4 linked regions of the Homo sapiens genome follow. The protein of the gene in region 4 interacts with the protein of the main gene of each other region in a pairwise test. Each region holds a gene or a part of one and is shown on either strand. Other genes may lie near its edges.

Region 1 (6,924 bases), on a different chromosome or scaffold from region 4:
CTGAGGGGCAGAAGGAAAGCAGGGTCAGATACCCCAACCCAGACATGCCTGTGACGTCTCGTCCATCACCAGCCCCCATGCATACCCTAGTGTCTTCTCACAAACCTCATTTCCCAACCCTAAGTGTAACCCTGAACTCTGATCAACACTGATACGACTCCCCAGTTTTACTTGTTTTGTTTTTTGAAACAGTCTTACTCTGTCACCCAGGCTGGAGTGCAGTGGTGTGATCAGGGCTCACTACGGAATCAACCTCCCAGTCTCAAGTGATCCTCCTGCCTCAGCCTCCCAAAGTGCTGGGATTACAGGCATGAACCCCCACACCCAGCTACGCCCAATTTTACTGAACACACCTCTGATGCTCAAATATTTTCCCAACCCCTTGATCCCTACATTTTCCTAATACCTCCCTCTGATGCCCCTGTAGAAACCCCGAATCTTGCTGAATGGCCCAAAACATTGTTAACCCCTTTCTGATAACCCAACATCCCCCCTCTGGCTCAACAATACTTCCCAGACTTTACTGAACATCTCACAATATTATTGTGAATCCTCTTCTGATAATAATCTCTGGAAACTTTACCCAAAAAATATTCTCTCTCTCTTTTTTTTTTTTTTTTTCCAGATGAGCTCTCTCTGTGTTGCTCAGGCTGGTCTCAAACTCTGGACTCAAGCATTCCTCCGGCCTCAGACTCATGAGTGGCTGGGATTATAGGCACTGTACCCAGCCAGCACTTACTCCAAAACAGTCTTATCAGACTTCCACAGATTCCCCTTCAGATGCTAGCCAACACCCTATTGATGTTCCCTCAAATCCTTGCCTAGTATCACCATATTCCTTCACTCCATTTCAAATCCCTCCACTGACTCCTGCTCCAAAAAAAAAACCTTTCCCCCAAGCCTTTCACACAATCCATATCTTTCTACTACATCCCTAGCTGAAACTGATTCAACACTGTCCCTCCACATTGTGCCCGACAGCCCAGTTATTCCTGATGAACCCATGTATAGAATTGTCAACCATCTCTGACACTTTCAAATGGACCCCAGCAAATGCTTCACTATACTTAGGGCAGACAGGGGCCAGGTGGTGTAGGGCCTCGTGGCAAGGATCTCTGAGCAAGATGGAGGGTTTTGAGCAGAGGAGGGACATGGTGTGAGTCGGGGCGGGGGGGGGGGGGCAGTGCCCCCTGTGGAACAGCCTGGGGTTGGAGCGGGGAGGAGGAGCAGTACAGGGAGACAGCGAGGATAGTCTGGCTGGAAGTGGCAGTGGACAGGACCCTCCAAACACCCCATGTATCCTGCAATTCCCAACTCTTATCTACAGGACAGATATTCACTCCCAAACTTCACACCCCAGCTTGATTCCTAGGCTGGGAGGCAACCTGACCTCTGCTCCACATGCCAGCCCCTCTCCCCTCCCTCCCCAGGTCCCTACCCTCCCCGCATGCCCCAGGGTGGCTCACTTTCTGGTCCCGGAGGCGTTCCCCGTGGATGACGTAGTGCCCCTGGCGGGCCCCCCCCTCGGGCCTGGCCCCTCGGACCCGACACACGCTCACCTGGCTGAGGCCCCCGCCCCCCACAGGCAGCCAGCCCCCACTGGAGTCATCTCGGGCCATCACCACAGCTCGGACCCGCACCATGTACCTGCAGGAGGTGGGGGGAAGGACAGGGACAACACAGTCATGAGCTCAAACCCTGCTCTCCCATGGAATGTTCCCTCAACCCTCATCTCCCCTCCAACTTCATCTCTCACGTCCAGGTCCACTGCACCCTAAGCTAGCAATACCCACCTTCAACCCCATGGCCACCGTCTTCCACACAGCTCCTTTCTTCCTCATGCCATCTCTTCTCTCTCACCTCTATCTTCTTCTCCATGTCTGCCCTTTCTCTCTGTACCCACCTTTCCCCCATCTCTCCGTCCCCACCCCCATAGCCCTGGTGTTGCCCTTCCCTCCCCCTCCTGCTTATCCCTATCACCCCCTTCTCCTCCCTCAGCACATACCCACAGCCCCACCCAGTGCTCCCCCTCACAGCTGGGTGCCTGCGCATATATATTTTCTCTGGGCCCATCAACTCAGCTCCTGTTCTCCCAACCCTGCCTCCGCACCCTGTCGTCCAGGCCACAGGCTGGGTGAGAAACCCAGGCTCTTTCCCCCCCACCCACCCCTTCCCGGATTTATGAATGAGACCGGATGCAAAGCTCACTGAGTCACCCAGCAACGGGAGATGGGCAGGGAACAGGGAGAGAACCAGAAATGGCCAGAAAGAGAGGCTCAGAGGGAGACGGAGGCAGAGGAAGTCAGAAACGGGCGACCGAAGACACATCCAGAGAGCATTTCATTCACAAAAATCAAGGCTGCTCCCCCAGGCCCCAGCCGAGGGAAGCCAGGGGGGAAAGATGGGATGGGGGGGCAGATTGATCCTTCCTCCCTCTTCCCTTCCCGCCCCCCAGCCCCAGCATCCTTCAGAACCATTTTACCCCGCCCCCCAGCTCAGAGGACGTAGCCCTCCGCCCAGTAATCGGGATCAGTGTCCAGCCCTTCACTGCCATCCAGCACAGGGACCCTGGCGTCCCAACCTTAGGGACCCGGACGAGCTCTAGCCCCCTCCCCCACCTGCAGGCTGCTGGGTTTCCCGGGCCCTTCAGGAGGGGAAGGGGCGGCTGCAGCGCCCCCAGCCCCCTTTTCTCAATGGGATGGGATTTTGTGAATGAGCAGTCACGTGACGCTGCTTCCTTTGTCCGCCCGCCTCCCCCGACAACAGGTGAAGCAGGGAATGAGAGCAGGGGTCCCCCCAGGGCCTAGCTGGAATGGGGCACTGGCATTTCAGGGTGGCCTACGCTCCCCACACATCCTGTGTCCCCCGGGGGGAGTGGTCCTCAGCGTTCCTCAACGGTGAGGGTCCAGGACGGAATTTTGTGAATGGGGCATCCTCGGAGAAAGTCCAGACCCCACAAATGAAGACTGGTACCCTGAATGGCTGCCGCGCAGTTTGGGGGGTCCCCACTCTCTAGTCCTCCTAGCCGGGGCCTTGGGGGCGCCTGGGTGGGCAGAAGGCGCAGCGCGGTCACGGCCGCCCCCTCATCGGGGCAGGCAGTCTGTCAGCCCCCGCCCCCTCGCCCCCCTCGGCACCTGCCTGCGAGGCTCCGGCCGGGCTCCGAGCGGCGGCGACGCGGCCTCCTCCTCCTCCTTTTCGTTCCGGCTCCCTGGCTGGCTCCGGCGGCGCTGGAGACGGGCACCGGGAGCCGGGGCGAGGGGGGAGGGAGGGGGAACCTGGAAGACGGGTGGGGGGGGAAGGGGCGGCTTGGGGGAGGGGTAAGAGCGAGGCGGGCTTACTTGCCTGCTGGGTCCTAGAGCCCGGCACTAGCTCCAGAGAGCAACCCCCCAGCCCCCATTTTCTTAAGATCCAGAGGGGATCCCCCACTTTTCCACCCATCTGCGCCATTGGTCTCTAATGCTATGAGGAGGGGACGGGGCAGGGACAGGGACTGGTCTCAAGGTTCTAAAGAGGTGGTGGTCTACGCTGTGGCTTGGGTGCCTGGCAGAGTTCGATAAGGGGTGGGGCGAGAGGGGAGCCTTCACAAGTGGGTGGGGTTGGAGGGCCTGGGTATAAGGAGGTTTGGATGCTGCAGGCGAGGACTAGTGCGTGCGTCACGAAGGGGCGGGCCCACGGTGGATGGGCCTTCTCGGCGCCCGGGGGGAAGGAGAGGGTCTTGAGAAGCGATGTTGCCGGGTCTTAAAAAGGCGGAGCTTAGAGGTAAATTGCCTTAGGGGCGGGGCAGATGAGAGGTCCAAAGGGGAGGAGCGACGCATCGGTGTTCGCGTGGGCGGGGCCTCGGGAGGGAATGAGAGGGGCGGGACATTCTAAAGGGGAGGGGCTAAGGAGAACAACCCAAAGGGGTGGAGCTTAGAACCAGAAGGCCTGGGGGCGAGGAACAAGACCTCGGAGTATTTCAAGGGGAGACCTAGGTTCGTAAGGGGCCGGGCTCCCGCGGGCTCGCAGGAGGGCGGGGCCTCGAGCTCCGGGGGCGGGGCCTACATCTCGGGGTCCGCCCTAGTTGTCTCGCCCACTTGCCTTCACCCGCACCCCCGTTCTTTTCGGTTATTTTCTGCTACGGCAGTTCCCTGCCCTGCCCCGGGCCCAGGGCGCCGCGGTCTGAACTCTGCTCGGCTGGAGGACTCGGTGAGTGGGTTCCTCTGGGGGGAGGCGGGGCCAGGGCGGAGCTTGGGGACAGGGGTGGAGCTTGACTGTGGATGCCAGCTAGTAGACCTGGAGCGGGAAGAGGTTTAGGGGTGAGGCCTGAGGATCTGCCCCTGCCTGGGAAGAGGGCGGGACCCAGGTGCTCTAGAGAGAGGCGGGGAGTCGGAGAGTTAGAGGAGAGGACTGAGGGATCAGCATGACCAGCCAAGGGGACAGGCATGGAACCTTAGTACATAATGGGGCTGGTAGTGAAGTATCTTAACAGCAGCTGTGTTGGGGACATGGGCAAGAAGGCGTGAGTGTCGAAGGTCGGGGAACAGGAGTGCGACCTAAGGACTTGGGCCTGATCGGATCTTGGAGAACAGGGGCGGGGCCGGTGCGGACGCATTAGATCAAGTACAGCCAGCCTCGTAGGGTCCCCACGGCCCTGGCAGGCTGACTGGAGTAAATTTTTCTGACTAGTCTCCGAGCTCCGTCAGAAATGGGGAACTTGCAGTCGGAGCCATCCGCGGGCGGGGGCTCCCGAAAAGTGCAGCCCTCGGACCGCGCCCCCGACTCCCGCCGGACGTCCCTGGTGGAGCCCGAGATGACCTCCCAGGCCATGCGCCTGACTCGTGGGCTGGGTGTCTGGTTCCCTGGCAGCGCCACACCCCCGGGACTCATGGTACCCCGGGAGCCCCAGGCCTCACCCTCGACCCTGCCCCTCACCTTAGAACGGCCCTCTCCAGTGATGCCCCCTCCTGAAGAGGCGGCCGCGGTCTCTGCACCACCCCCGGCCCCCGCGGGGACTCTGCTGCCCGGCCCGTCTAAATGGCAAAAGCCCGCGGGCACTCCAGTTCCCCGGATCCGCCGCCTGCTGGAGGCGAGCCATCGCGGCCAGGGCGACCCTCCGAGCCTCCGCCCGCTGAAGCCGCCGCCGCCGCCCCGGCAACTATCCGTGAAGGACACTGTCCCGAGGGCCCCATCCCAATTTCCGCCGCCCCTGGAGACTTGGAAGCCGCCACCACCATTACCTTCTGAACGGCAGCCGGCGGACCGCAGAATCACTCCTGCTCTGGCCACACCCGCCTCACCCCCGACAGAAAGCCAGGCTGGGCCCCGCAACCAGGGCCAGACGGCCGGCAGGGCTCGCGGAGGGGCGCCTCCCCATGCGGGCGAAGGCGAAATGGCCCAGCCTGCGGATTCCGAGTCCGGTCTGAGCCTGCTGTGTAAAATCACCTTCAAGTCGAGGCCCTCTTTGGCCCCTCCGGCAGCCTCGAGTTCCTTAGCAGCCAAAGCTTCGCTGGGGGGCGGCGGAGGCGGCGGCCTCTTTGCTGCCTCAGGTGCCATCTCTTACGCCGAGGTCCTGAAGCAAGGGCCCCTGCCTCCTGGAGCCGCTCGCCCCTTGGGAGAGGTTTCTCGAGGGGCACAGGAAGCCGAGGGAGGTGATGGAGACGGCGAAGGGTGCTCTGGTCCTCCCTCGGCGCCTGCGTCCCAAGCCCGGGCCCTACCGCCGCCACCCTACACCACCTTCCCAGGCTCGAAGCCCAAATTCGACTGGGTTAGCGCTCCCGACGGCCCTGAACGCCACTTCCGCTTCAACGGGGCTGGCGGAGGCATCGGGGCGCCGCGACGGCGTGCGGCCGCACTCTCTGGGCCTTGGGGCTCCCCTCCGCCACCACCAGAGCAGATACACTCAGCTCCCGGGCCCCGGAGGCCCGCACCTGCCCTGCTGGCGCCGCCTACGTTCATCTTCCCAGCACCCACCAATGGCGAGCCCATGCGCCCGGGGCCTCCAGGCCTGCAGGAGTTACCACCGCTGCCACCGCCCACACCGCCGCCCACACTGCAGCCACCAGCGCTCCAGCCAACGCCGCTGCCGGTGGCTCCCCCGCTCACCCCGGGTCTGGGCCACAAGGAGTCAGCCCTGGCTCCCACCGCAGCCCCTGCTCTGCCCCCAGCCTTAGCCGCCGACCAGGCCCCGGCCCCATCCCCGGCTCCAGCTCCCACCGTGGCTGAGCCCTCGCCGCCTGTGTCCGCGCCCGCACCCGCGGCTGCGCCCATCAAGACCCGCACGCGCAGGAACAAGGGTTCCCGTGCAGCCCGGGGCGCGACCCGTAAGGATGGCTTGCATGGAGATGGTCCTCGCGAACGAGCTACAGCTACCGTGCCTGACAGCAGTGGTGGAGGGGGTGGTGGCAGCGGGGCCTCTCAGACTGGGGCAGCTAACACCCGCGCTGCGCGCCACTGGCTGCCCTTCCAGGTGCTTAACTCCTGTCCCTGCAAGTGTTACTGCCACCACCAGCCACGCCATCGCCGCCTGCCACGCAACGTCTCTGCCTGGTGAGAGGGGAGAAGGGACAGGAGGGTGCCGAACCCCAGACTGCTGGATAGAGTCCTACTCAGCCCTTTGGCTTCCTGACCCTAGAATGACCCGTGGCCTTCATCTCTGCCACATCTCAAACCTAGCTGAGCTCCCACCCTTCAGGACCAAGAGGACCCATGATCCCATGCTGACCTTTGACGGGGAAAGGGGGACACCCTGGCCCAGCCCTATGGCATCCAATCCCTAAGTGGACTCTTGGCCCTCCTGTACCTCTCTTGGAGCCATTAGAGAGGGAGGCTGGTCCCAGCTGGCCTGACCCTATACACTGCCTTGACCCTGTCCCTGAGGGTATCAAGGAGGACCACGTCCGAGGCCACTCAGGGATGGGGGTGAGGGGATGACTGTCTTCCTGGAAC
Region 2 (6,979 bases), on a different chromosome or scaffold from region 4:
GGGCAGATCACCTGAAGTAGGGAGTTCGAGACCAGCCTGACCAACATGGAGAAATCCTGTCTCTACTAAAAATGCAAAATTAGTCAGGCGTGGTGGCACATGCCTGTAATCCCAGCTACTCCGGAGGCTGAGGCAGGAGAATCACTTGAACCCAAGCTGGGAGGCGGAGGTTGTGGTGCGCCGAGATCATGCCTTTGCACTGCAGCCTGGGCAACAAGAGCAAAACTCTGAAAAAAAAAAAAAGAGGAAGGAAGGAGAAGAAAAGAAAGAAAGAAAAAGAAAGAAAGAAAAAGAGGAGAGGAGAGGGAGGAAGGAAAAAGAGAGAGAGAGAGAAAGAAAGATAAAGAAAGAAAGGGCCGGGCACTGTGGCTCATGCCTGTAATCCCAGCACTTTGGGAGGCTGAGGCGGGCAGATCACGAGGTCAGGAGATCAAGACCATCCTGGCTAACACGGTGAAACCCTGTCTCTACTAAAAATATAAAAAAATTAGCCAGGTGTGCGGGCACCTGTAGTCCCAGCTACTCGGGAGGCTGAGGTAGGAGAATGGCGTGAACCCGGGAGGCGGAGCTTGCAGTGAGCCGAGATCGTGCCACTGCACTCCAGCCTGGGCGACAGAGTGAGACTCCGTCTCAAAAAAAAAAAAAAAAAAAAGAGGGAGGGAGAGAGGGAAAAGACAAGAGGGATGGAGGAAGGGAGAGAGGAAGAGAGTGAAGGAGAAGAGAGGAAAGGAAATGAAGGAGAGGGAGAGACCCGGAGAAGGAAGACAGACACAAACTCTGGTTACTTGCAAAATTACATCCCTTTAATTCCTGGAGTAGACAACTGCCTATATGGTATGTCTCCAAGAACTCTGAAAATGGGCTCTTGCATTTGCTCTTTCATCCTCACCTGTTCAAGAGGTTTTTTTTTTTTCTTTTTTTCTTTTTTAGAGACAGGGCCTTGCTCTGTCTCCCAGGCTGGAGTGCAGTGGTGTGATTATGGCTCAAGCAATCCTCCCACCGCAGCCTCCCAAGTAGCTGGGACTACAGGCACACACCACCACACCTGGCTAATTTTTTTTACTGAAGAGACAACGTCTCACTATGTTGCTCAGGCTGGTCTCCAACTCCAGGGCTCAAACGAGCCTCCTGCCTTGGCTTCCCAAAGTGTTGGAATTACAGGTGTGAGTCACTGTGCCTGGCCAACAATTTCCTTTTTTTTTTTTCTTTTTTTTATTGAGACGGAGCCTTGCTCTGTCGCCCAGGCTGGAGTGCAGTGGCAAGATCTCGGCTCATTGCAACCTCTGCTGCTGGGTTCAAGCGATTCTCATGCCTCAGCCTCCCAAGTAGCTGGGAGTACAGGCACGTGCCACTATGCCTGGCTAATTTTTTTGTATTTTTAGTAGAGACAGGGTTTTGCCATGTTGGCCAGGTTGGCCAGGCTAGTCTCGAACTCCTGACCACAAGTGATCCAACCACCTCGGCCTCCCAAAGTGCTGGGATTACAGGCGTGAGCTACCGCGCCTGGCCAGCAGATTCTTAAGTTTTGGAAGGAAGAAGAGAAAGGACTCTAGGCACCTAAAGGCGGTACGTAAAGGATAGCAGGTGGCTGAGCACAGTGGTTCATGTCTGTAATCCCAGCACTTTGGGAGGCCAAGTTTGGGCGAATCACTTGAGCTCAGGAGTTTGAGACCAGCCTGGGCAACATGATGAAACTCCCCATCTCTACAATTTAATTAAAAAAAAAACAAAAAAACGGATAACAGGTAACTAAAAAAGAAAAAGGTGGCTACAAGACTGTATGCCTTCAATTGGCAGAGACCGTGTCTTATATTTTGTATGTATGCTTAATACAATGTACCTAGGACAGTTCCAGGCCTCATTAAACATTTGCTTTTTATTTTTATTTTTATTTTTTTTGGAACAGAGTCTCGCTCCATCCCCCAGGCTGGAGTGCAATGGCGTGATCTCGGCTCACTGCAACCTCCACTTCCCAGGCTCAAGTGATTCTCCTGCCTCAGCCTACTTGTGGGATTACAGGTGCTTGCTACCATGCCCGGCTAATTTTCGTTTTTGTTGTAGTTGTTGTTTTGAGACGGAGTCTCACTGTCGCCCAGGCTGGAGTGCAGTGGCACAATCTTGGCTCACTGCAATCTCCATCTCCTGGGTTCAAGCGATTCTCCTGCCTCAGCTTCCTGAGTAGCTGGGATTACAGACATGTGCCACCACGCCCAGCTAATTTTTGTATTTTTAGTAGAGACTGGATTTCACTTTGTTGGTCAGGCTGGTCTCGAACTCCTGATCTTGTGATGTGCCCGCCTCAGCCTCCCAAAGTGTTGGGATTACAGGCGTGAGCCACTGCGCCAGGCCTTAAACATTTGTTGATTGGCTGGACAATAAAGAACTTGCTTTAGAAGGAGGAGAGGACAAAAGAAAAAAAATGGATAGGATCTCTTTAGTTAAGTTTCAGCCACAGAACCTTTACTGGGACAACTCTTGATCACATGTCAAACTGCTTTCATTTGGGGCAAGAGGATAAGGGGAAGTTGCATGGTGGGAAGTGCAGAGATCTGGAAGACAGAAGATTTTACTAAGTCTCTTCCCCCAGAAATAGCAATGAAAAACAAATTTACTTGTATTCTGTCTGTTTTCCTTTGACTTGCCAGTCTGTCAGCTTATATCTTAATTATCTATCTCTGCTCCCTGTCTCTATTATTGTTTTTTCCTCTTTAATAATGATCAAGTCCAAAGAAACGTGAGAAGCCCTGTTCCTAGCACCTTTTCCTGAGTCACCAGGGACCCCCTCTTTCTCCCCCAGGGAATTACTGGGAACAAGTCTTTCTCATTGGGTCAGACTCCACACAGCACTAATATGGCTAAAAGCCAGAGTAAAGAACCAGGGAAAGCTGGAGTTTGGATGAGTCTGGTTAAAGTCCATCCTAGACAGTCCAAATGCCCTGACCCCAAAGGGGAAGGCCCTTCTCTCCAGCAGAGCCAGATTTTATGCAAGACATTTAGTATGTCAAAGTATCAGTCTCTGGCCTTGGAGGCAGGTCTTCTGGGCCCCGTTTTAGCTCCTCCCCTGGGTGATCCAGGTTAACTGAGCTCTCCACTCCTTTGTTCCCCCAAACTTTAGACCTTTGACCTAAGAAAGCAACCAAGAAAGGTCAGTGCAGGACTGGGAGCTCTTGAGGACACAAGAATTAGAGTAAAAGGAAGGGGAGAGTGGCATTAAACTAATAGATTCAGAACTGTAGCCTTTCCCCAGTCCAACCCTTCACAGATGGGTAACGGGGGAGGGTCCAGGTCCCTCTCCAACGCGAGTTCTCAAGGGCCTCCGGTTCCAGCCTGGCCGAGGAGCGCCATCTGGCGGCCAACCCCCCAACCTGGATCCTCTGCCCCATCCGACTTTCTGAAGCCCGAACTAGATCTGGGCTGGAGAGTTTCACCTCCTCTGCGTCACTCCGGGGACTCCGCCCTGCCAGGAACGCTCCTCCTCAAGCGGGGACAGGCCCAAGCGCCTCCCCCGCAGGAAAACTGCCCATCCTCCCTCTAGGGTAGACTGCTTCTCCAGTAGAGTCGGCTTAAAGCTCCCCCCAGGGATCCGCCCCGCCTCGTCGCCCACAGAGCGCCCGCCTCTCCCCAAGGGGCATCTGCCCCTCGTCCTCCAGTTTCCCCTTGAGGAGGGAGAGAGAACGTGCTGCACTGCGCCCCCAGGTTCAACCTCCAACCCGGTCCCTCCCGAAGAATGGATTCCTCTTCTCCTTCTCCTCCCCTGCCTTATGGGAGCCTCTTCCAGTCCACAGAACCCAAATCGAGGTTACTAATGAGCTCCCCTTCTTCGTGCCCAGGGGACCCCTCTCGGCCTCAGGCTCTGCTCCCCTGAGCTTGGCCCATGGCCCCGGCGCCCCTGGGACTCGGCCCCAGCCATCTCACCACCCGCGCCAGGGGGCGGGGCTCCCACGGCCCGGCCCCGGGTGGGCGGGTCTATCGTGACGTCACTTCCGCCCGGGCCTGGCCGAGGTTCGGGCTCCGTTGGCCGAGGGGGCCGTACGGAGGTGGCAGCTGTGGGAGGAGGCGGCGTGGAAGGCCGAGGAGCTCAAGCCCGGACCAATCCCCACGTTCCGGGCCGCGACCCTGACCCTGCAGCGTACCGGGAAGCGAAACCGGCCGGATGGGCCGCTGAGCCCGAATCGGGCACTGGTGAGGCTCGGGCAGAGCTGGCAGCCCCGGACGGGAGCGGGCCCACGGGGCTGCAGGGTCTGGGAGCCCGGGATGCGGGGTGGGGAGAGGAGAGGCTCAGGCCTACCTCTCCTGCTCGCCTGGCGGGGAGGCGGGAGCTAGAGGAGTCGCAGACAGGCGCGGGGGGCTTAGTGAGGCCCGCCTGGGGGAGGCCTGAGTGTAAGGAGGGGGCGGGGTGACTGGGGTCATTAATGGGGCGGAGGACCTGCACTTGGCATTCTCATCTAGAACGGTGTCGTCGGCGGGAGGAGGGGAGAGTATGCTACCGGCCAGAGCTTTGGGAAGAGGATGGCTCTGAGTGGGGGAGGGAAAAACCGAGAGGGTTGGAAAAATTTTCCATGGCCCTAATTGAGAAAGAGGTTTGAAGAGCCCTTCCCTCCCTAGAGGGTTGTGTGGAACACCTGGAGTAGGGTCTCCCTGGAGTTTAGGGGGTCAGTTACAGGATTTGGAAAGGACAGTGCTCTGAGAGTCCCCACACTGAGTGGGTGTGCAAAACCCTGGCCACCTCCAAGTATCTGAGCTTCCATATCTTTCCAGTGTGGAGCCCCCTGGAGCTGAGATCAGGATGTTCCGCTTCATGAGGGACGTGGAGCCTGAGGATCCCATGTTCCTGATGTGAGTATTCCCTCCCCCTCAAGCTCTCCCACTCCAGGTCTCTGAGCAGTTCAGGCAGACATCGGGGTTCCCATTGCTAGGAATGGTTGGAACTGGCTGGATACCTAGCTCCTACCTAGCAGGAAGTAGGCATCGGTGCCACTGTTGCTCTGTGCGTATTTTTTTGCAGGGTGGTGGAGGGATTGACAGTTTGGCGCTTCTGCCATCCATACTATGTGCTCACTCCACAGGGATCCCTTTGCTATTCACCGTCAGCATATGAGCCGTATGTTGTCAGGTGGCTTTGGATATAGCCCCTTCCTCAGCATCACAGATGGCAACATGCCAGGGACCAGGCCTGCCAGCCGCCGGATGCAGCAGGTAATGATGCTGAGACACACCTGAGACCCAAAGAAAGGTTGGAGGTTAGTTAGGAAAGCACTTAATTTTCTTGCACTACAGCCAACTGAGCAAGTGAAATGCTCTAGGAGTTGGGGAAAGGGTCAGGAAAAAGGGCTTTGTGACTCCCTTTTGAGAGGATGGAAAAAAATTGAGGCCATGGGCCTGGTTTGGGATTGTAAAGAGATAGGATGTGGTCTCTAATTTCTGTTCCTCATGTGTTCCTGTAGGCTGGAGCTGTCTCCCCCTTTGGGATGCTGGGAATGGTGAGTCTTTATCTCCCTGTGTCCTTCCATCTCAGACACACTCTCTACCCTTAGATATTATTCCCAAATGTGCCTCTTAGGAATAGTTTCATGAGTAACCCCAGAATCTTCTCTTTTTATGGCATTCACAAAGCTCTGAGCCTGTTGGGTACTAGGAGCCCTGTGGGTTAAAGGTGTTAAACTCTTGTTGGGAGGCCGAGATGGGTGATCACTTGCAGTCAGAAGTTCGAGACCAGACTGGCCAACATGGTGAAACCCCGTCTCTACTAAAAATACCAAAAAAGCCAGGCATGGTGGCACACACCTGTAGTCCCAGCTACTCTTGAATCCGGGAGGTGGAGATTGCAGTGAGCCGAGACTGCGCCACTGCCCTCCAGCCTGGGCAACAGAGCCAGACTCCATCTCAAAAAAAAAAAAAAGAAAAGATGTTATTAACTGTTGTACTCCTAGAAGTTCATACGCATTAGGAAGATGTAATTGTCTAGCAAAATTTGTTCTTTTGAGGAGGGAAGTGCAGTTAAAGGGCCAACTAGAGATGATTTTTTGGTAGGTTTTAACAATTTCATGCCTTACCTCTTTAGAGTTTAGAATCCATTACTTTGGCTTGCTTCCTAAAGATGGGGGGAATATAGCAAGCAGGAGAAGGAAAATTGGATCACAGCAGTCACAGAGACTGAGGAAGGGGTCAGCAGTTCACAGGAGGAGAAATATGAGTATTCTGGTTATTTTAACAGAATGAGAAAGAGAACTTGCTAGATGTGAAGGAAGAAGAGAAAGGAAATGTGCAGCCATGTGGGTTGTGGGTTCCTAAACAGGATCAACTCTGAACACTGACTTTGCTTTCCTGACTCTGTTTTCCATCTCTTTCCTCCAGTCGGGTGGTTTCATGGACATGTTTGGGATGATGAATGACATGATTGGAAACATGGTGAGACTTGCCCCATACCCTTCCCCGGCCTTGCTCTCAGTGATGGCTGACAACACCTTGCATCCTCTAAGGCAAGAGGGAAACAGTATGCTAGTGAAGGGTAAAGTACTGGATAAAGTAATTGAACCAGAGAGCCTTGGGACCCTGTACCTGCTGTCATGCCTGCCTGAAGCAGCCGGCAGCAGCTCTCTTACGTAGCATACAATTAAGGCCCTGTCTCTTCAGGTCCTTCTTGCTCGTGGTTGGACTCAGAGGAATTTGGGAGGGTAATGATGAGGCCTGATGTTTTTTCAGTTCTTGCATTTTGTGAGAAAGATACAGGCTAGAACAGGCAGCTGAAGGGTGAAATCCCTTCACCAGGGGTGATGCCTCCCCATTCAGCCCTCCCCTACCTACCCTGTCCTCAGGAACACATGACAGCTGGAGGCAATTGCCAGACCTTCTCATCTTCCACTGTCATCTCCTACTCCAATACGGGTGATGGTGCCCCCAAGGTCTACCAAGAGACATCAGAGATGCGCTCGGCACCAGGCGGGGTGAGTTGGGGAGCCCTCCTGTCCCAGAGAAGGTA
Region 3 (7,664 bases), on a different chromosome or scaffold from region 4:
GTGTCCTCATCTGTAAAATGGAGACACCACCACCCTTGCCATGGAGGTTAAGCACTTTAACACAGTGTCTGGCACTTGGGACAAAAACAAACAAACGAAAAACATTTCAAAAGGTATTTATTGAGCACCTGCAGGCGTGACCTGACAGCCCAAGGGTGGGTGGGGTGAGGGCTTGAGGACTTGGGCGGGACACAGGCTCCAAACTGGAGCTTGAAATAGTGTCTGATGAATGTTAAATTATCTATCTATCTATTTATTTATTTATTTGAGACAGGGAAAGGGTCTCCCTCTGTTGCCAAGGCTGGAGTGCAGTGGCGCAATCTTAACTCATTGCAACCTCCACCTTCTGGGTTCAAGCGATTCTCTTTATTCAGCCCCGGGAGTGGCGCGCGCCACCACGCCCAGCTAATTTGTGTATTTTCAGCAGAGACGGGGTTTGCCATGCTGGCCAGGCTGGTCTCGAACTGCTGGATTCAAGTGATCCGCCCATCTCCGTCTCCCAAAGTGCTGGGAATTACAGGCGTGAGCCACCAAACCCGGCCTGATTAAAGTTAAATAAATACTAGTTCCCTTCTCGTCCAAAGGAGCAGGGAATGGGAACCGGGAAGGCACGAAGTCTCTAAAGCATCCAGAAGACCCCTACACCAGGGTCTGGTCCGCTCCTATTCGCCGCAGCCTTTCTGTTCCGCCTGCAACCCATTTTCCAGACAGTAAAACGGCGGCGCACTTCTTTCTCCGTCAGGCACCAGGTCATAAGGAACCCAAGAGTCTGTGCCTCTGAGGCCCAAATTATTTGCTGTTTCCTCAGGGGAGCCGGCGGCCGCGACTCCCACGCCGCGCCGTTACCGCTCCCTCTCTGCTGACTGCTCCCCCTAGGGGCAGAGACGGTCCCGACGCCCGCCATCCCGCCCCGGCCTCACCCCTCCCCGCCAGGCGGAACGACGCGGGGAGGCGGGCGCTCGGGGCTCGCGCCAGGGGCCCCAGAATCCTTCGGGGAGAGTGGGTGGGAGGAAGCTGTGTGGGCGGGGAGCCCCCTCTGCCTTAGGGAGCGGCTGGGCACCCATTCGCCCCATTCAGGGGCTGCACTTTATAGACGTTCCCTAGGCTGTTTCTAGGCTCCCCCAAGTCCCTCCTCCAGCCTCGTCGGGTCCCTCAGACCCCAGCCCAGGACCTGCGGAGGGCCGCAGCGAGGAGAGGCCAACAGGCCTTTCCCTAGAGTTGAACCTGGGCCGGGTGTTGCACCTGGAAGAACCCCCGATTTCCTGGGGACCCAGCAGGGCAGGCGGCCTGGCTCCGCGCTCAGGTCCGGACGCTTGTTTATGAGAAGAATTTCCTCTTTCTTAAAAGGGCAACGATGCGAGTGGGTCCCTCAAGGAGAGAAGAGATGGGACCGGTCTGGTGCGACCTGGGCAAGCGCTGCAGAGGGTACCTGGGCAAGAGGGCCGCCCGCCTCCTCTGGGTTTGGCACTGGAGAAGATGGGTCCATGCCAGCTGAAGGAGGAGATGGATGGGGGACGTTTAGCGAAGAAAGGCATCTCCCAGATCCTTTAGCCTCCTGGAAGTGCCCCCGTTGTACCCCCTACACACCCCTCTTGGCATTGAGTGCCAGTCCTCTGCCAGGCTCTGTGTTACAAGTTGGGGAGGGCGGCAAAGTCCCGAATTAAAGATGTCAGTTCTCAAGGACCCCACACTCCAGCGGCGGGAGACAGCTGTGCAAACAAGTCCCTGTGGCAGGATGCGGTGAAGGGCGCTGCCCGTGACGCCAGCCAGGGAAGGGGACTGAATCTTGCTGAAGGGGGGGTCGGCGGTAGGGGGGAGTGTTGACAGGACAGCCCAGGAGGAATGAGAGTGCCAGGAGCATGGGGGCACGTGTGTGCACATCTGCCAAGACCTGAAGCTTTCTGGGGACGTCTTAGATCTTGTGGGGCAGGACGGGGGACGGCAGAGTAATGGGCAGGTTGGTCAAGAAGACACGGAGACCCGGCTAAAGGGCTACCCAGGACCTGGGCAAAGGGCTAGTGATGAGGTCGCGCCAAGGTCAGTCATTTGGACACTGGAAGGCGTCTACTTAGAGCTGCCCCCATTCCCCCCATAGTAGCTCTGGTTCTTCCAGCCTGGCCTCAAATCGACCCTCCAGGAAGAGGGGTGCAGAGTTGCTCTTCTGGAAGCTCCCTTTAGGCCTCCCAGGGAGGGCGTGGTCGCACTTGGCACTCCCCAAGAGCCTGCTGAATGCACCCCGACTTTGTGCACGGCTCCCCGCCTCCCCCTGGGTTGGGCTTTTACCAGCCCTGTTTGGCAGATGGGGAAACTGAGGGACTGTGTTGGAAGAGACGCTTCCAAATCCACAGGTGCCAGACAGCACCTTGCTGAATCCCGTTCCTGCCCCTCCCCGTTTCTGACTTGTGGCCCCCATGATTTTATTTTTCCTGGGGTGCGAATGATAAAACAGACAAAAAATAGAGTGCATAAAGCGACCTCCACCTGTAGAGACAGAGGGCAGCTGGGTGTAGACAACCCCTACAGTGAGGACACTCGAAGGACCCCCCTCCCCCCACGCAATCCTGGCCTCTCGCTCACTCCGTAACTAACTACCCGCCCCAGGCGTGGGGAGATAAGTCCAGGGCTCCAGGCAGAAGGCGCGGCTACCTCTGCCGCTTTGGGAGCCTGGGAGGAGGAGTTAGGTCTCCCTGGGAAAAGAACTGCACGGGCAACGGCTTGAAGTGGCGATAAGATGGGGTGGAGGAGGTGGGGGATTCCTGAGGAATCCTGTGAGCTCAGGATGGCGCGTCTGGGAATGGTGGGTGTGGGGACAGCCGGCCAGGTACCAGCCCCCTTCACAGAGGGAGAGGAAAGCGCGCCACCCAACCCAGGCCAAGGGCGAGGCCACGACTCCACTCAGTCCCTCGCCACACGCTTCCTTTTGGGGTCATGAGGGCCCCGCATCCGGAGATAAAGCCGAGGCCCCACCCAGGGGGCCGGACCGCAGGGGAGACAGATGTCCCGCTCCCAGGCTGGAATCCCGCCTTTGCCCTTGCCGGTAGACCCGAAGCACGTCGCTTCCTTTCTTGAAACTCAGTTTCCTCATCTGTGAAATGGGTTAAGAAGGAGGCCGTTCTAAGGGGTAAATGAGATTAGGGGGCGCAGCCAGAGCAGGCCTAGGAAAACGCCAGCAGCGTGTGGCGATCACGGTGATGAAGCGCAATGGTGGCCGCCCCGTGGGCTACCCAGGAGCAGGAGGAGGGCCGAGGGATCCAGCCCGGGGACCGGGGTATCAGTCCCCGACAGTCCCCTCCCGCCCCTACTCCCAGCCTCAGCGCACGAAGCCGCCGCGCCTTCTGGCAGACGCCGCTCCCCTCCCTTCCCCTCCCGGCCCCCGCGCGGGGCCTCCCCTCCCCGGCTCCCCCTCGGCAGGGCCTGGCGGACGTGCGCCGCGTCGCACCCGGCGGCCGGACGGGACAGGACGCGCCCGCCCCGCCCCGCCACGGAGGCCCGCGGGAGAGGGGGAGGGGAGGAAGTGCCGAGGGGTGTTTGTCGGGCTTGGCATTATTAATTTTTAAATGGTGAACTTACAAAATAGTAACGACGAGTGAAAAGAACTTCATAAACGAGGAAAAAGACCAACCCGCAGACCCACGGCGCGCACCACGGAGGGGCTTGCAGCGAGAAGACAGGGACCTCCGTTCCCAAGTGCCCAGCACTGCGCCACAGGCCGGGTGGAACGGGCCTTGAGGGCCTCTGGTTTGAGGTCCCCCACGGTCGGGCTTTGGGCCCACCGCGTGCGGCGCCGTGCTGGGCTCCTAGGATCGGCAGCGAGTCCAGTGACTCCCACCGCACCCCCAGTAATCACAGGGCGGCCGTCGACCGCGGGCAGGGGAGGGGGTCTGGGAAGGCCCCTGGAGAAGGTGGCATTTCCTCGAGGTCGGTGGAATTTGGCTACGCGAAAGGAACAGCGCGTACGAAAACTTCAGGCGGGAACGCGCGGTGGCCCGTGCGCGGCGGGTAGACGTGCGGGGCCCCGGGTGGGGCCGTGGGGAGAGGTCGGCAGGGGGCTTTCCCAGGGCAGAGAGTTAGAATTTCACGTCCTACAGACCGGGGGCACCTCGCCCTGGGGCTGCGGGGGGCGGCGACCGTCCCATTCAAGAGCGTGATTCTGAGGTTTGCACAGCTGTTTCGGGCCAGCAGAGCCTTCGCTGGCTCTTGACGTCCTTGCGAGGTGATCTCTGCGACCACCAGACAGGAGAGAAGACCCATTTTACAGATGAGGTAGTGCTATCTCCAAGTCCTCAACGAGGAAACCGAGAAGCCTCTAGTCCCGGGTCTTCAGAAAACGCAGAGGTGGAGCCGCGCCGCACTCGGGCACTCCCCGGCGTGGGCGCTCCCGGCGGGCGGGCCTTGGCCGAGGGCGCTCGGCGGCCTGGAACGGTGAGCCGGGTGCCGGGCCTGCCACGCAGCCGCAGAGACTCAGCCCCGCCGGCGGGCGGCAGGAAGGGAGGCGACGCCCCCTGGAGCGCGGCAGGAACCCGGCCCGGCCCGCCTCCCAGTCCGCCTAGCCGCGCCGGTCCCAGAAGTGGCGAAAGCCGCAGCCGAGTCCAGGTCACGCCGAAGCCGTTGCCCTTTTAAGGGGGAGCCTTGAAACGGCGCCTGGGTTCCATGTTTGCATCCGCCTCGCGGGAAGGAAACTCCATGTTGTAACAAAGTTTCCTCCGCGCCCCCTCCCTCCCCCTCCCCCCTAGAACCTGGCTCCCCTCCCCTCCGGAGCTCGCGGGGATCCCTCCCTCCCACCCCTCCCCTCCCCCCCGCGCCCCGATTCCGGCCCCAGCCGGGGGGGAGGCCGGGCGCCCGGGCCAGAGTCCGGCCGGAGCGGAGCGCGCCCGGCCCCATGGACAGCTCGGCCGTCATTACTCAGATCAGCAAGGAGGAGGCTCGGGGCCCGCTGCGGGGCAAAGGTACCGGGGCTGCGGGGAGGGGGCCGAAGCCGGGGCGCCGTGGGAGGAGAGAAGGGGCCGGGATCTTCCCCAGGGGAGCCGCCGCCGCCGCCCCGGGCGGCCGCCTTAGCTGTGCCCGAAGCTCCCAGCCCGAGAGGGAGCAGGGAGAGAGTTTGAACTCAGAGGAGGCTCAGAGACGCGGGGCGGGGCCTGGCGCCTTTGGGGCGCTCCTGTTCGCTCGAGGTGAGGAAACTGAGGCAGGAATAGAGAGGGAACTCTTCGGGGGTTTCCTGGCAGGCATTGCGTGGTGCATGGGCGCCCCCCCACCATTGGCGCCAATGGGGCTGGGAGATGGGGGAGCTGAGGAGGGCGCCTATGGGCCACCCGCTGAGACTCCGCCCCACCCCCCACCCCCACCCCCCCGGGCTGCGGTCCGGTAGGGTCTTGGGAGGGGGCGCCGAGGTGACAGCAGGCTGGGGAGGCTTGGAGGGATCTCCCGCCAACACACAGCTACGTTCCCCACAAACTTCGCGTCACGCGTGGAGGCGCCGACCCCCTCGGAGGCACAGAGAGGACGGCCGGCACTTCCAAGAGTCGCTTGGCGCCCGCGGGGAGAGTCGTGCGCCTAGTGGGCACGCACCACCCCGCAAAGCCTCGCCGCCCCGACGAGGCTGCGTCCCCCAGCGTGGCTGGGCCGGGGTGGGGGGGTCTGTCTTCTCCTTTTCCCCGTGTGGACCTCAGGATCTGGACGCTGCCCCCAGGTCTGCCCACCCTCGCCTGGGTCTGGCTGCCCCGGAACTGAGGGCAAGGTGGAAAGGCTAGTTGCAGGGGGCCGGAGGGGGGTGGGGTGGGAGGGGTATCTGTCAATCAGGCTGCTGGGCTCCAGGTCGGAGGTCTGGGCGGGGCAGGGCAAACAGATGGCCACTGGACACTGGCCCCAGGCCGCGGGACTGCACCCCTGCCTCTGGGCCCAGCCGCAGTGAGGACTTCGTACCCACGGGGGTGGAGAGGATGGAGGGAGGGCAGGGGTGGACTGCCCTGGGTCCCAGGCCCTGGCTGTCCTGAGCAGGGGTGCTCAGGTAAGGTGGGGTCAGGAGGCACCGCAATGGGGCTGATCAGCAGCAGTCATGGAGGCTGTGAGAGGCAGGGAGAGAGCACCCCAGGACCTCCTTCTCCAGGCCACGCACTCCCTATGTGGGCGCCTTAATACCTGCTAGACCTATTTGTCTGGGAGCTGCAGGAGCCTTGCAGTTGATTGTGGAGCCCTGACAGGGGCGTTTCAGAGAAAGTCAGGAGCTGCCTTCGTGTGTCTGGATGAAGGGGCCACGGCAAGATCCTCCTGGCTCAGGGGTTCACACCTGGGCACACATGCAGGATTCTGCAGGCCAGTGTGCACCGAGCCTCCAACTTGTGCCTCCCTACTTCAGGTGACCAGAAGTCAGCAGCTTCCCAGAAGCCCCGAAGCCGGGGCATCCTCCACTCACTCTTCTGCTGTGTCTGCCGGGATGATGGGGAGGCCCTGCCTGCTCACAGCGGGGCGCCCCTGCTTGTGGAGGAGAATGGCGCCATCCCTAAGGTGCGTGGGGGCCAGGTGGGGCCACGGGGGCACCTGGACTCAGTCTTCAGGGCTTTAGGGGAAGGGGCTCCTGACTGAGCTTTTCAGGATGGACTTGCAGACCTGAAAGGTGCAGAGTAGGAGGGTGGCAGCCTCCCCTGCCAGGCCCTGCCCACTGTGGGGAAACTGAATTCTCCCTCATAAGTGGAAGCTTTTTCCTACCTTGGTTTTTAGAGAGGTCTCAAAGAGCCAAGAGGCCTACCCAAGCCCTAGAGCTGGCAGGGGCAAAGCTGGGAAGGGGGAAGTATCTGTTCCTGGGGCCTGGGGTTCCTCTGGAGACGGCTAGGGGGAGAAGCCTGCGTGGGAGGAAGGACCAGGCCCGGAGAGAGGCACCCCAGCCAGCCCCGCCCTCCCTACAGCAGACCCCAGTCCAATACCTGCTCCCTGAGGCCAAGGCCCAGGACTCAGACAAGATCTGCGTGGTCATCGACCTGGACGAGACCCTGGTGCACAGCTCCTTCAAGGTGGGCCCTGCTCAACAGCCCTCAGCCCGGGTCTCGGGGGGCATCCCCCACCCTGGCCTGGGAGGGAGGTGTGTGCTGGACCCCATGCCCTGGGGCTCCTCCTCCAACTCCAGCAGCTCTTTTCCCCCCACAGCCAGTGAACAACGCGGACTTCATCATCCCTGTGGAGATTGATGGGGTGGTCCACCAGGTGAGGGCCAGGAAGAGGCAGTGGTGGGCTTGGCATCTGCCTCCAGACCCTAGGCTCTTCCCACCAATCCGGAGCGCCTCGGATGGGAATTGGATACATGTGGAATGTCAGAGGCCCAGAGAGGGTGTGAGACTTGTCCCAAAGTCACACAGAACCTCAAGGGCTTGTGCTGACTCCAAGCCTGCAGAGTGGGCTCCTCCTCTAGGCTCCCCCGTGCTGTGCTCCCTCGCCCCACCCTGCCCGGGACCCAGTTCAAGTAATTCAGGATAGGTTGTGTGCTGTCCAGCCTGTTCTCCATTACTTGGCTCGGGGACCGGTGCCCTGCAGCCTTGGGGTGAGGGGGCTGCCCCTGGATTCCTGCACTAGGCTGAGGTTGAGGCAGGGGAAGGGATTGGGAATTAGGGACCTCGTGAGGTAGGACTGGCCAGTGGAGTGGAAGTTTTGATCGTTTTCTGGCGGGGGGTGGGTAC
Region 4 (7,020 bases):
CTTTTGGGGGAGGACTCAGCTTCAGGATGTTTAAAATTTAATCACGTTAGTAAGAAAATGGAAAGAAAAGACTAGACCTTTGTATTTTATTTCGTCTTCTACTGCCGTCTTGCAGTTGATCTTCCGCCTTCTCCTGAAGTAGTTAGGACAACTCCCTGTTTTCACAGAGGGGCAGAGCGAAAGCAAGTATCTTCTGTCATTGCTGAAGCAGGACGGCTCCCGGCAAAGATGCTGGGCTTCATCCAGCCCCATTCTAAGCAGCTGGGCCTCCCCACCTGCAGTCTTCCTGGATTTTGATTTTCTGCACACTTGGGCTTCCCACTAATTTGGCAAGTTCATACCAGTCCAGGCCCTTTCCTGGCAGAGGATGGCATTCAGTGCTGGTGCAGCCACTCCTCCAGGCTCCTCCCTGAATAAACAGAGGCCGGATGTTCTGGAGTGCTGTTCCCGCCAGGCCTCCTTGGGATGAGAGGGAGACCTTCCTCCCTCATGGAGCAGGGCCGCTCTAGCTCCATGGATCTTGGGGGTTACCAGTCTGGCACTCTCCAGGGAGTCCTGTTAAGAACACAGATTGTGGCTGTGTCTCATCGCCTCCCTGCCCCAACCCCATGTTCAAATCTGAATTGCTCAGTGTAGGGCCCAGAAAACTATTAAGTCCAGAAAGCTTTTTTGGTGGTTCTGATTCTGCTGCACTGGCAGTGGGAGCCACGGATGGCCAGTGATCCCATTTTGGGGAGGAGGAGCTGCGGCTTAGTGCCTCCTGAACATCTATCCTGCAGAGCATTTTCCCAAGCCTCCATTTTCCTTCTTGGGGAAACTCCCCAGGTACGCGGGCTTCTGGAGGTGTGAATATGGGGATGACATGGGAAGCGAGCCGAGACAGCACCTTGCAAAGTCTGGCAGGGTGGCTGGCAGTGCGAGAGTGGGGAGGTGGTCCAGAGATCTTCCTGGACCCCAGGAAGAAGCAAGCCAGAGCCTTTTCTTTTTGTCTTGCCCATCTGGCAGAATCTCACCATAATCATTTAACAGATTATACTCAGGCACTGTGACAGGGAGATAGAAACATCCTTTCAGATAACACTGGAAATGTTTCGAGTTATGATTGAAGTAGAGAGACCCATTTATTTTGCTTAAGGTTCAGCAGAGCCTCCTGAATTTTCTTAAAGATGAGATCGTTTTGCTCTTTCCAGATCTATTGCAAGCTGTTATGCCTCTTAGCAGAGGCGGAGCACAATCAGGAAATGAGTGGCCGTTCTCTCCTTCGTATTTCCAGCAAGTTGCAGTTGTGGCTGAGCAAGTTCCTGTGCGACTGCATGAAAGTGATTTGTTGGGGGGCAGATGAACAGCATGGCCAGATGCCTTGGAGCCCAGCTCATCCAGGACTTTCATTTTCCCCTCTGAAGAACAGCCTGTGTTGTTCACATGAGAACCGACTGCACCTCCGAGAACATCATTTGTCCCGTTTTGTAGGGTAGATTTGCCCTTTATGAGGGTGGAGCCTGTACACAGGACCTGCGGCAGCGTTTGACGTTGGCCAGGGCTGGGAAGGCTTAACTGTTGGATGCTATCAGGGCTGCTTGTGAGTCAGAAAGCTTCATACCACCCATGAGGCTTGCTTAGTGCTGTCCTCGTTTCTGGAATGACACACAGTCACCTTATATAAACCACTCTACATGTTTATTACTTTCTATTGACATTTAAAAATGATGTTCTGATGTTTATCATCCAAAGTAGAAAACCATTCATCATCCAGACCTACTCTTTCTCCTTTAAGTTTTGCTGTTTTAATATTGCTCTTAAATGTTTAAGAGAGCTTACAGAAGAAACTGAAGACAAAGGCCTTGCTTATTAGGATCTTTGAGACCCTCTGGCACTGGCGAACACGAGTGAACCCTGTGTCACACTTGACCGTGTTATTCTCCAGCCCCTCCTGGGTTCCCTTTTGTTGTGAGTCAAGTAGACACCTCTGATCTGCTTCTGCCTCAGAGCATAGACTCAGCTGGCCTTCTTTTTTTTTTTTTTTTTTTTGAGACGGAGTCGCACTTTGTCTCCCAGGCTGGGGTGCCGTAGTGCGATCTTGGCTCACTGCAACCTCCGTCTCCTGGGTTCAAGCGATTCTCCTGCCTCAGCCTCCCAAGTAGCTAGGATTATAGGTGAGCGCCACCATGCCCATCAGCCGGCCGTCTGAGGCAGGCTCCAGAGCCCCTTGTTTTGCAGGTGCAGGATTCATCTGTATGCATCATGTGGCACATGTGATACCATGTGAGGTATCTGGTGTTACTAAGTCGTCACGTATTTCGATGAAGGTATCTTTGGGACCTTGGCAGCCTTTTAGGAAGCCAGGCAGCTTGCAAAAGCTTAGGAAGAATTTGGGGGGAGAGGAATGAATGTAGTATTTTTCTGTCTGTCAACACACACACATATATATATATATGTGCCAGATATGAGTGGGTGCTTTTGGTAACCTTATCTCTAAATCCTCACCAGCTCTTTGAACTAGAAACTATGAAGTGTCTTACACATGGGACAGCAGATTTGGAGAGGCAGTGTGCCTGGCCTGTGATAAACAGAAAGACTTCTGTGGCTTTACCCCCATCTGAGTTCCTGAAGGGGTGACAGACAGACTTGCCTTTAGCGGGCCTGGCTGCTTTATACTCCCCAGGCACGGCTGCTTTATACTCCCCAGGCACAGCTTGAGGTGATAAACAGCCCTGAGTCCATCTTTGTATAGTTAATCAGAAATGTTGGCCTGTTTCTTGAACCTGGGTCTGGATTTAGGAGATGGGCCCGACTCTTTACTCACTCCTTTACCCCATCTGAAATTCACTGAGTGCCCACAGTGTGCGAGTCACAGTGTTAAATGCCATATAGAGGACAAGTCTGCCCACTTTGAGACTGTTCTCCACAAAGCATGTCCTGCCTCTCCCTGGTCCGAAGCAGGCTGTCTCTCTTCTGGAACCCATATTATTTTAATTTGAATCTTTTTGCTTAAGCTCTGCACTTTTCTGCTTTGTCTTGGGGTCACACCCCTGTTAGGAGTTCTGGGGCAGAGTCTGTGTGCTTCATCGCTGCCTCTTGATGCCTGGCAGGGTCCACAGGCTCAGAAAAGATGGAACGAGTGACTGTGGAGAAGGGTAGAACATGGGCCTGCCCAGAGCGCGAAGGCAGATACAGAAGAGCTGCCCGTGAAGGATGCAGGTGTGTCCCGGGAAGCCTTCCATTGGTTCCTAAGAACTGCAGAGTTGTCCTGGGCTCCTAAAGGTCCCCAGAGGCCTGCTCCTTTTTGTCACTTTGTGAATGGCCTTCTCTGCACAAAGGACTTCAGTATTGATTCCCTAAGTTCATCCTTACAGGTCTGGAGAAGCTCTTTTTTGTTTCTCCCAATGACACAGCATCTTACAGCAGGGCTGGAGAGGCTGGGAGCTGGCAGCAGCCAGACCCTACTTCCATAGCTGTGCAGAGAGCAGCCCCTGGCACTGTGAAAAGAGTCTCTTAAAAATTTTTTTTCGTGTGGCTGGCAGCAAGATCAGACACCGTATACGTGAAGGTTCTTATTCACTGTCAATTCAGAAAAGCCTAGAATCGCAGAGTGCCAGCTCTGTGCGTCAGGAGCCTGTAAACAGCTCAGCTGTCCAAGAGCTCCCAGCACAGAGCTGTGCCCCAGTGAACTGGGGAGACTTTTTACGGAAAATTCCTTAGCATTCAATTGGAGAACAAACGTTTGCTGTTTTAAAGTATCTTCCTCAGTGTTTATTAAAGTAGAATTATATATTTTTTTCAGTTATTTAAAAAATTCTTCCTTGACATTGAATGAATGAATAAATGAATGGATGGTTTAAAAATTCATACAGTGGGAGGATGGGAAGGCCCCTTCATGTGCAGAAGAAAAGCCAGCCCCTTCGCTGGCCCACCCTTTCAGGGTCAGTTCAGACCCCCAGCATCCCAGCGGGGTTAGCACTCCTTCCTGGGTTGGACGGTGTCTTCCCCGGTTCTGACAGCGCTCCATGCCGGGCGTCCCTGCAGTCTTGGGGCTGTGGTGACTCAGAATTAAGCTGAGTGCTCTCACTCTCGTGTACCCTGCCTGGCTGGCCTGATGACTCAGCATGGAGCGCTGGCTCCCTGACCCAGAGCACACTTGAACTGAATGTTCCAGGTCTGAGCCTCAGCCGAGCGTGGCTGGGCGAAATGGAAGCCTTTCTCTCCTGCTGCCTCTCCTGCTGCATTTTACCCCGGGAGATGAAGGTTTTGGAGACGTTAGTGACACATGGATGTTATCACAGTGTACAGCTGTGACAGGAGTAGCAGAAAGGTTAGCATCTACCTGGCCTTACCATCAGACAAACCTGGGTTCTAGAGATCTTAGGCAAAGCACTTACCCTTCTTGAGCCTCAGTCTCCCGTTGTGTGAAGTGGGCATAGCAACACTTCTGTTAGCAGGGTTGGGAGAATCAAGGAAGATGGTGTGTGGGAGGCGAACGTCCCAAAGCCTGAACTGATGCATGCGTGGAACTCCCGGAAACATATGCAGCCTGCTCTGTGGAGTAGAAGTGTGTTTGTGGATAGGTGTGTGGCCTCTCCACACAGCAGACTGTCCTGGCTGTCCGTGGGCCTTTCAGCTCTCAGAGAGGCCTGGGGTCTTGTTTCTTAGAAGCAAGGCCTCCTCTTATCCCCCTTGTATGGAGTGTAGCTGACTCCCCCGACCAGTGTCCAGGTGGCCCTTGGAGCCCTCCCTGGGGCTTCCCGTGCCCCTTGTGAGTGGAGGATGTAAAGGAACAGTAACAGATGAAGCTGCGGGGCCTTCGGGAGCCTTGACCCAGCTGCCAGACCCTGCGCCATGCGTCCATAGATGCATCTCCCCATCCTCTGCCCAAGATAGGCTGGGTCCTTGTGTCCTCCACTGTGCTGTGTAGAGCGCTGGCTTTACTCAGCCTCAGCTCCTCAAGGGGAGGGTCTCCCTCAGCTGTGTCTGTGCAGCCGCAAAGTACCAGGCAGGAGCTAGGAGCGCTGCCTGTGAGGGGGGACATCAGCCCACCTTACTGAGGGGCCGATTACCTGCACAGCTCTTCTGGACCCAGCTCTCAGGGGTGTAAATGTCACCGCAGATGGAAGGAAGGAGGGGTTTTCCAAGTGCCACCACCCTCTTCTGGGGGGTGTGGCTGCTGTGGACCGAATGCTTGAGAAGCCACTGCAGGTGGGAGCAGAGCCCCCCCGGGACTCAGGGGTCTCACCGTCCATCAGAGAGGGTCCCCTTGCCTGCATGGCAGCTGATGAACTGAGGATGTTTTTCTTTTGGAAATTGTATTTTGTACAGAATACACGTCCGCTGATGTCCTGTACACTGAGACCTAACAGGCACTTGTAGGGTCGTGTCTGGAGGATGGACTTGCCAGGTGGCTGACCATTCCATTTAGCATGGAAATGTAGCAGTTGAGAGAGGTCCTTTTCCTTGACTCTGTCTAAATTCAGAGTTTGCTTCCTGGGATGGAAATTTCAGATAGTTTCCATCTGTGATTTGTGACTTTGGCTTGATTAAAGCAGGTGGCTCCGCTCTTTTTTTTTTCCCCTGAAGAAGAGGTAGGTAGGTTCTAACATGCCCTGAAGCTAACTTCATGTGACCTTGGGCCACATTCCAGTTCCTACCTCTGCCACATGGAACCCGTGAGGCAGGCTGCAGGGCTGGGGCTGCAGGGAGGCTGGATGCTGACTCAGGTGCCCCCAGCAGGGGAAATACCAGCAGCTGCGGATGGTGCCTGGCCTGGAGACGGCTGACGTGTGCCCTGGTGAGGGGCCATCGAGGATGTTGAGGAGACGCCAGCAGATGTTCTGCTCCCAGGCGGACCCTTCTGTGCCCCAGCCTGGCCTGGCTTTTCTCTCTAGGCCTCAGGGAGATGTGTCAAGGAACCACAGTCAGTGCGGCTGGGCGCCCTGCTCAGCCAGGAGTTTGTCTGCAGAGCAGGCCTCTTCCCCAGAGCAGCGGCCCAGCCTGTTGGAGAGGTGGGTCGTTTAGGGCTCAGGTCCCTAGAGTTGTCTTTGGCTCTTTGCTTCCAGGCTGTGAAACTTTAGATAAAGTCTTAAGCAGAGAAAGTGACATCCTTGCTAATTAGTCCTCTTAAGACTCTCAGATAAAGGGGCTTCTAATTCTAACTGTCTTACTACCAACTTGGTGAGACAGACTAAAGAATTAGGCTTTGTTGAACAGGGCGCGGTGGCTCACACCTGTAATCCCAGCACTTTGGGAGGCCGAGGCAGATGGATCACTTGAGCCCGGGAGTTCGAGAGCAGCCTGGGCCCCATAGTGAGACCTTGTCTCTAAAATAAATAAATAAATAAATATTTTTTTAAAAAAAGAATTAGGCTTTGTAAACGGTAAGCCCAACCAGCTAGTGCTGGAGAAAAGCTGAGTCCATCAATAACTATTTGTGGAATAAAGAAATGCAATTGTGGCTGGGCGTGGTGGCTCACGGCTGTCATCCCAGCACTTTGGGAGGCTGAGGCAGGAAGATCACTTGAGATCAGAAGTTCGAGACCATCCTGGCCAACATGGTGAAACCCCATCTTTACTAAAAATACAAAATTAGCTGGGTGTGGTGGCACATGCCTGTAATCCCAGCTACTCAGGAGGCTGAGGCAGGAGAATCGCTTGAACCCGGGAGGCAGAGGTTGTGGTGAGCCGAGATCATGCCTTTGGACTCCAGTCTGGGCAATAAGAGTGAATCTTCGTCTCAAAAACAAAAACAAAAATTAGCTGGGCGTGGTGGCAGGTGCCTGTAATCCCAGCTACTCGGGAGGCTGAGGCATGAGAATTGCTTGAACTCGGGAGGCGGAGGTTGCAGTGAGCTGAGATTGTGCCATTGCACTCTAGCCTGGGCAACAGAGCGAGACTCAGTCTCCAAAAAAAAGAAAGAAAGAAAGAAAAAGAAACCCAATTGTTTAGGGCACAGAGCAGCTCAGAGTTTACAAAGACTTGTACCTTATTTCGTACCTTATTTCACTTAACTCTTGCAAAAACCCCTGGGAAATA

The links.
Region 1: the proteins of BAG3 (region 4) and GGN interact in binary tests that used the Homo sapiens proteins (3 or more experiments, as listed by UniProt).
Region 2: the proteins of BAG3 (region 4) and MLF2 interact in binary tests that used the Homo sapiens proteins (3 or more experiments, as listed by UniProt).
Region 3: the proteins of BAG3 (region 4) and CTDSP1 interact in binary tests that used the Homo sapiens proteins (3 or more experiments, as listed by UniProt).

What each region holds. Positions count from the first base shown.
Region 1 is NC_000019.10:38,385,022-38,391,945, reverse strand, and holds the start of GGN (gametogenetin), read left to right. Parts: upstream 1-3,911; 5' UTR 3,912-3,971; intron 3,972-4,096; exon of another isoform or gene 4,097-4,123; 5' UTR 4,124-4,185; intron 4,186-4,665; 5' UTR 4,666-4,684; coding exon 4,685-6,525; intron 6,526-6,924. Other genes in the region: SPRED3 (sprouty-related, EVH1 domain-containing protein 3), read right to left, coding at 1,467-1,643. UniProt on the Homo sapiens protein: May be involved in spermatogenesis.
Region 2 is NC_000012.12:6,750,142-6,757,120, reverse strand, and holds the start of MLF2 (myeloid leukemia factor 2), read left to right. Parts: upstream 1-3,979; 5' UTR 3,980-4,182; intron 4,183-4,204; exon of another isoform or gene 4,205-4,239; intron 4,240-4,758; 5' UTR 4,759-4,786; coding exon 4,787-4,836; intron 4,837-5,066; coding exon 5,067-5,196; intron 5,197-5,444; coding exon 5,445-5,480; intron 5,481-6,354; coding exon 6,355-6,408; intron 6,409-6,815; coding exon 6,816-6,944; intron 6,945-6,979.
Region 3 is NC_000002.12:218,395,212-218,402,875, forward strand, and holds the start of CTDSP1 (carboxy-terminal domain RNA polymerase II polypeptide A small phosphatase 1), read left to right. Parts: upstream 1-4,656; 5' UTR 4,657-4,879; coding exon 4,880-4,946; intron 4,947-5,191; exon of another isoform or gene 5,192-5,276; coding exon of another isoform or gene 5,277-5,742; intron 5,743-6,352; coding exon 6,353-6,501; intron 6,502-6,714; exon of another isoform or gene 6,715-6,899; coding exon 6,900-7,004; intron 7,005-7,137; coding exon 7,138-7,194; intron 7,195-7,434; exon of another isoform or gene 7,435-7,511; intron 7,512-7,664. UniProt on the Homo sapiens protein: Preferentially catalyzes the dephosphorylation of 'Ser-5' within the tandem 7 residue repeats in the C-terminal domain (CTD) of the largest RNA polymerase II subunit POLR2A.
Region 4 is NC_000010.11:119,654,371-119,661,390, forward strand, and holds part of BAG3 (BAG family molecular chaperone regulator 3), read left to right. Parts: intron 1-7,020. UniProt on the Homo sapiens protein: Co-chaperone and adapter protein that connects different classes of molecular chaperones including heat shock proteins 70 (HSP70s), e.g. HSPA1A/HSP70 or HSPA8/HSC70, and small heat shock proteins (sHSPs), e.g. HSPB8.